2 linked regions of the Homo sapiens genome follow. The protein of the gene in region 1 purifies or fractionates together with the protein of each later gene. This does not show direct contact. Each region holds a gene or a part of one and is shown on either strand. Other genes may lie near its edges.

The links. Proteins that work in one complex are often made in the same cells at the same time.
Region 2: the proteins of ALB (region 1) and RANBP3 purify together in Homo sapiens (affinity purification with mass spectrometry; one large-scale study listed by BioGRID and IntAct). This does not show direct contact.

The regions. Positions count from the first base shown.
Region 1 is NC_000004.12:73,410,743-73,414,392, reverse strand, and holds part of ALB (albumin preproprotein), read right to left. Parts: intron 2,398-3,650; coding exon 2,268-2,397; intron 974-2,267; coding exon 759-973; intron 1-758. UniProt on the Homo sapiens protein: Binds water, Ca(2+), Na(+), K(+), fatty acids, hormones, bilirubin and drugs. Its main function is the regulation of the colloidal osmotic pressure of blood. Major zinc transporter in plasma, typically binds about 80% of all plasma zinc.
Region 2 is NC_000019.10:5,922,592-5,926,241, forward strand, and holds part of RANBP3 (ran-binding protein 3), read right to left. Parts: intron 3,147-3,650; coding exon 3,043-3,146; intron 2,315-3,042; coding exon 2,236-2,314; intron 1,324-2,235; coding exon 1,221-1,323; intron 713-1,220; coding exon 603-712; intron 1-602. UniProt on the Homo sapiens protein: Acts as a cofactor for XPO1/CRM1-mediated nuclear export, perhaps as export complex scaffolding protein. Bound to XPO1/CRM1, stabilizes the XPO1/CRM1-cargo interaction. In the absence of Ran-bound GTP prevents binding of XPO1/CRM1 to the nuclear pore complex.

The sequences.
Region 1 (3,650 bases):
AAGTCTTTGATGAATGATACTTGTTATTTTTATTAACATTTTGTTTGATTTAAACTACATCTCAAAAGGATTCTGATAAATAGATGGGCAGAGATATGTTCTTAAAATATTCTCTTTCTTCTCTGTATGAGTGAAATCTTGTAGGGTACATAATTTTAGGAAATATTATTTAGTGCATTATCATAATCCAACAACAAAAATGCAGTTTATCACCACAACTTCTGACAATATGTAAACATTTATTTTGTAATTGAGTTGCCTACCATATTGCCATTATACTGAACTTCTGGTCTTTTCACCAAATATAAAGCACCTGGTGTCAGACTCTATATTTCTTTTTATACTTCTTTGCTATCATTGCATAGATTAGATAGATAGACTAGATTAGATTAGATTAGTTAGATAGACAGGCAATACATAGTCACACACATATATTATAGATGTTCAAGAAATACACTTGGAATGAATGACTGAAGTATACATAATTTATATATACACAAAATGTTTCTAGACGTATTTTCAGAAATACCCCTAAGGAGTAAGGAATGTTGAGCTTTGCCATGAACATGTATTATTTTATGACAATGTATTCAACTAATTAACTATTTCAAAAATTGTTAAAGCCTGGGAAAGGGAAGGATGAAGAAACATTCTGGGCAGCAGGGAAATTGTAGCAACTCCACAGAAAAGCCTAGGCTATCCTCCTAAGTTGTGAGGTCATGCCAAAGCTATAAAAGAATAATTTCTTATCTACTTACATGCCCAGGAAGACATCCTTTGCCTCAGCATAGTTTTTGCAAACATCCTTACTTTCAACAAAATCAGCAGCTAATGAAGGCAAGTCAGCAGGCATCTCATCATTTTCCACTTCGGCAATGCAGTGGGATTTTTCCAACAGAGGTTTTTCACAGCATTCCTTCAGTTTACTGGAGATCGAATCTTGATTTTCACAGATATACTTGGCAAGGTCCGCCTATAAGTAAGTTGGTGGAAATTGTTCAACACGAATTGACATTGCTACACTTTCTCCTCAGACCTTTATTAAGTTGGCAGAACATATTCATTGTATTCTAAGACCATACACATATTCCTTCTATGAACATACTCTGTTTGCTCCTAAACCTGGAGATGTAGATAGGACTACAAAAACATTCCCACTTAATTAAAATAGACTAATCAGTAGCAGGTGCTCAGCTCAGTTATTTATTAATTTTATGTTTCTACTGTTAGGGCATTTAAGTTTTTTTCATTAAAACTCAATGCTGTTTTTCCAAATAATCCCCCAAAATTAAGTGCAGGCCTTTTGAAACCAAATAACTAAATAAAATATAGAAGATTTTTGAAAAATGAGTCAAGATCATAGTCATAGGCCCTGCTTACATATATAAAATAACCGCCTTAAATTTTCCAGAAAGTGCCATGAGAGATTAGGATTCTAGTATTTGCCCATAAGTTTAATCTTGAAGAAAGGGAGAAAGAAAATATTATAAGTTTTGAGAAAAGAGATATCATTCCAAATATTTGCACATCTAACAAACAGAGTTAATTAAGGGAAGGAATATAGAGAAGAAAAATACATCATTTCCAAAAATCTCTTCAAGTAGTGACCTTCTCCAAGTCCACCTACCTCCCTCAAAAAATCTTCTTAGGCTGGGCAAGGTGGCTCATGCCTGTAATCCCAGCACTTTGGGAGGCCAAGGCGGGTGGATCACCTGAGGTCAGGAGTTCGAGACCAGTCTGGACAATATGGTGAAACCCCGCCTCTACTAAAAATACAAAATTAGCCAGGTGTGGTGGCGCATGCCTGTAATCCCAGCTACTTGGGAGGCTGAGGCATGAGAATCACTTGAACCCAGGAGGCAGAGGTTGCGCTGAGCCAAGATCACACCATTGCACCCCAGCCTGGGAAACAAGAGCGAAACTCTGTCTTAAAAAAAGAAAAAAAAATCTTCTTAGACATCTACCTTGCAAGATGTTCTGCCAAGTAAAACCTTGTAACTGTTCTACTTCAGTTTAAGCCTTCATTTACAGTTAGAGCATGACTGAAAGGAGTTACAAATCAGTGAATGGGTTTATCTGGTAATTTATAGCCAGGTTAAAAACAGAAAGGTACCACCACCATAGGCAGGGAAAGATTGAAGATAGGACAGACGAAAGCACAGAAGACAATCTCAACCCACTGTCAGCTATCACCAATGATACCAAACGCATCCATTCTACCAACTTGAGCATGCAAGCTACCAAAAAGCATATCGACGACTCTTTACCCTGTCATCAGCACATTCAAGCAGATCTCCATGGCAGCATTCCGTGTGGACTTTGGTAAGATCTGTCACTAACTTGGAAACTTCTGCAAACTCAGCTTTGGGAAATCTCTGGCTCAGGCGAGCTACTGCCCTAAAAAGAAAATCGCCAATCAAAATGGTATTATCATGCGATATTTTATATGAAAACACTAGGCAAATACTATTTCTCATAAGAAAATTCAAAATGGACATACAGAAATAATTTTTAAAATTCATTAGTTCTAGTTCTGAACCAAATGGTAATCACTTATCCTTAGGGCAGAATTATCCATTTAAGAGTGTGTGTGGTAGGTAGAAATCTAGCAAGTCATAAAAGCAGAAATTAAAAAGGAACTCTAAAAGGGGCAACAGGCTGAGAAGCATCAGGTTTGGAGTCCAGATGTGACTTCCAGCTCTGGCTTTATCACTTGTTAGCAGTAGGACTTGTTAGCAGAGGGCTCAGCCTCTCTGAGCTTCAGCCTCTGCAGTGTCATGACAACATGCTAAATTGAAGAAGTTTTGAGGATTAAATTAGATAATACATACAAAAGCATTTTATAATCTGGGAAGTACTACACAAACTCCAGTTATCTTTTTTCTCAATTGAAACACATTTTTTCTGACTTCTAAAGGTCTCTTAGAAAAGAAATCATAACTTCTACAGAATGAGGGAGTTTTTATTGATCTTACTTATAAAAAGAAAGATCCAGCACTATCTTCAAACTCTATGACAAGATGTAAACGTCTAATTTTCTTCATTCTCTAGTCATTTCACAGTTGCCTAAATCAGGTAAAGGTGACTTCTTTCCCAAAACCAATCATAGCCTGTTTATCTGTGTATAATTTTATGTTGGGGCTGTTTTTTTTCATAAATTTGGTTGATTTTGGTGGTGTAGATGGTAGGAATGATGAGCAAATACAGTTCAATTGACAGTTTCTAGAGAGCATGCATAATGTCTATTATTTTCATTTTATTTCCTGTTGTGTTGATTTGCTGTTGACTAGCAGGTGAGGAGTGTGGGTGACGGGGCAGCTAGTATTTTTCTTGACTCGGCTATTAAAGTATGCTCCCAGAACCAACTAAGTAATATGAAAACAGAGGCTCAGGCAAAAACATGAGATGAAGATCAGAGCTGGAGCTATGCAAAAATAAGAAGTAACTTCAACTTAGTTGGTGACTGAATTTAACTATAAGACATAAAAGGACAAGCAAATAGTTTTAGATCATTGGGGGGAAGATAAAATTAAATAAAGGGATTATATATGTTGTATACTTATATCAAAATATCTCATATACCCCGTAAATATGTATACCTACTCTGTATCCACAAAAATTAAAAATAACTTTAAAAAATTAAATAAAGA
Region 2 (3,650 bases), on another chromosome or scaffold:
GGGCGACAAGAGAATATGTTTGGTATGACAGTCTTTGTCATTCCCTGAACCATCAAAAATGTCTCGGGCTGGGCGTGGTGGCTCACGCCTGTCATCCCAGCACTTTGGGAGGCCGAGGCGGGTGGATCACATGAGGTCAGGAGTTTGAGACCAGCCTGGCCAACATGGGGAAACCCCGTCTCTACTAAAAATACAAAAATTAGCCTGGCGTGGTGGTGCACACCTGTAATCCCAGCTACTCAGGCGACTGAGGCACAAGAATCCCTTGAACCCAGGAAGCAGAGGTTGCAGTGAGCCGAGACTGTGCCACTGTACTCCAGCCTGGGTGACAGAGTAAGACATTGTCTCAAAAAAAATTAAAACAAAACAAAGAATGTCTCAAACAGATCCTCCTCCTCTGAAACCAAAGACATGCAAGAAGCCCCTGAGCCTAAGCTCTCTCTACAAACGCCACCAACAAAGTCCCAGAGCGTGGGGCCAGTGGCCCCTCCGTCATCTCAGGGGCAGGCCTGTGTGCTCAGAGGATGTGGGCCCAGCCCTTGCGGTTGGACCCCCAGGTGCATGGAAGACCCAGGGCCACCGAGGAGGGGCCGGCCCCTCACCTGTAACACATTGCTCTCCGCCTCCTCCCCGGTGATGACTTCCACTTTTTCCAACAAACACTTCCGCGCTGTTGCCTTGGTGTAGGCGGCTGCCGACTCAGCCAGGGACTCTGAAAAGTTATTGGCCAAAAAGACTGACTGATTATTTGGCGAGAGGAGAGCCATCTCCCCTCATCCGACAGGAGATGAGAGGGTTGGTTCTGGTCTCAAGGACGCCTGCTGCCCCTGGCAGGCCTGCCCCGGCAACCCAAGTGGACCCTAGACACAGCCAGAGCATATGGCCTCAGAAGCTGCAGGGAGACCATCTGGGGGCCAAGTGTGGCCCCAGACTCTCGTGTTCGTGCCGAGCAGTCGACGGGGGGACAGTGAGGGACTCCTCCACGCCTGCTGCCTGCGCCTCCCCACCCTCCCCACGGCCACAAGGCGACACAGGCCCTCGAGTTCTTTATCACAAACCCTTGCTCACTGCAAGGCAGGGCCCTGGAGCTGGTTCACATGTGGTTGTTACTGCTGCGGGAGTCGGGCCCCTTATCCCTCCCGGCTGGGGGTGTGAATGGACCCAGCATCCCCCAAGATGACCTACCATGAGCCCCATGCTGTGGTGGGACGCTAACATACCTTTCTCAGGGGTGGCCTCCTGGGACGAGGACTCAGACCCTGACTCGGCAGCTGCATTTTCCCTGTTGGCATCTGAACTGACCTCGTTTAATTTTGGGGGGCTCTGCAGGGACACAAAAGCATACAAGGAAGAGGGCACTTGTGTGGTCCTTCAGCAGCAGCTCTGAGCACCTCTCTGCCTGGCCCCCAACACTACGCTGCCCCCAGCACTCCTGCCCACTCCCGGTGACACCCTGAACTGCCTGGGAGCTCCCCACGTGGTCCCTCAGGCATCACTACGGGGTGAGTGCCACCAGCCGACAGTCCCCTCGAGCCACACTGGTCACTCCGTCTGGGTGAGGCAAGACTTTGAACATTTCATTGAAATAGAAAAAGCACAGCGTGGCCACGAAGGAAGAGAAGCTGCAGAGTACTTAATGCAGCCTAACTCCAGACAGAGCTAGAGTGACCAGGCGGCTCAGGACAGGCCCTCACGCAGTCGCAATGGAGCTGGGTGGAATCAGGAAGAAAAAGGAACATGTGTAAAGAGGTAGGCAAACCATTCTAGAACCCTCTCCCAGGCTGGCTGGGCTCCTGGGAACGGAGATGGGCCTTTCGTGCACCCAAGGCCTTGGCCGCGGTTATGCTCACAGGAGCAGGGAGGCCAGCAACCCTGTCCACCAGCACGGCTGGCTCCGTCCCACAGGACTTTTGTCAGTTGGCCTGGTGGGGAGGAACCATGGACCCCGACTGCCAGCAGGACCCTGCAGCCTCCAGGGAAGCCCATCTTGGGATGAAGTTGGCCCTGGTCAGCACGGAGGAGCCGGGAAAAGCGAATGCCAGTTCGTAGGCAGCCAGTGGCCCTGGCCAGTTTTCAGGCTGAGTCTGAGCAGGGTCTTCCCTCTCTCACTTGCTACTGAAGGCATCCCCATCTCACATAGGACGACACAGCAGCCCTGCTCTCCATGTCCCCTTGACCTGTGGCTGGCGCCGAGAGCCTCTGGTCCCTGAGAACATTCCCAACACAGCCACTCACCAAAACTCGCTCGCTCATGTTCTGGCCAAATACAAATTTGTTGCTGGAGGCGTCGGCACTATTGGTTGAGTTCTCTAAACTGAAGAGAAGATGTGCAATGAGTGTGGGGCGTCACGTGGGAACGTGGCCAGGCAAATGTATGGGTACCCATGGAGCACACACTGACACAGAGGGCACAGTGGAGGGGCCTCCGCCACTGTGCACGGGGTGGCGTGTCAGAGGCAGGAAGCCACACACCTCCCTGTGCCATTGAAAACATTAACCCTTAGCTCGCCCTGATGGAGGGGCCCCACAGCATGAGGGAAGCCACCTTCCACCTGCTCTACCCGCCCATCTCCCAGTCGGGACACGCTTTCTTCTGAGACACCTGGAGGGGCAGCTGGTCCGTGGGTAGCATTACCCCCAGCCATGTCAGTCAAGGACATGATGAGGTCTTTGCCCCAGGTGCCCAAACCCAGAATAAGGGGGCGCCTGAGTCGCCTCTGGCCTGCTCTGTTCTGCTCTGGGCATGAGGTCCACAAGACAGAGGGCACACTCCAAGGGCTGGGCTGTAGCCTCCATGGGCCCCTGGACAACCCCACAGAACTCTGGTCCTGTCTCAGGCGTCCAGTGAATCCCAGGACAAGGCCCACCACCCTGGCCCACCCAAGGTTGTGCCCAGAGTGGGGAATGAGAGAGAGGGGCCTGAGAGCAACCTGGATTCTGGGCCTGAGTCGGGCACGGGGACCACAGACCCCTCTCTGGCAGAAGCCCTCGCGGCCACCTGCATCGCCATGCCAGGCTGGCCGCTGACACCGAGACACACACCTGGAACTGATATACTGGAGGAAATAGTTCGTTGCGGTTGGCGTGTCTGCGCTGGGGTGTCCAGCATTCTCCATGTCGGCTTCGTCCACGCTCTCATTTATCAGCTGGGAATGAGACGGAGCGCTCAGTAATCGGGGGTGGGGGGGTGCCTGGAGTTCCACAGCTCAGTGTCTGCAGACCCCCTGAGCTGCATGGAGCTGCTCGGAGCCATGAACCCTCTCCTGTACCCGCCTGTGTGTGTGCGCGTGCATGTGCTGGGGGGCAGGGCTATAATCAACTCCATCACCTTTTGCTTTAACAGTTAGGATGGAAAGAGAGCTCATGAAGCTCCAAGGAGCCTTTTCCACCTTGTTACAAAACCACGCCTTGTTATAAAACCACGCCTAAGCTGGCCTCTCGGTCAATGCTTCATACCAATAACACAACGTTACAAAGCTGACGTTTTGGGGGGTTTACTATGAACATGATAGAAGCAGAATTTCTTGAGGGCCTCTTTCCTACCAGCTGCTATGCTGAGTCTGTCAAATGCACGATCTGCTTTAATCCTCACGAGGCCTGGGAGGGGGATGTTAGGGACCCTGTTTGACCAACAAGGAAGCAGAGGCTCA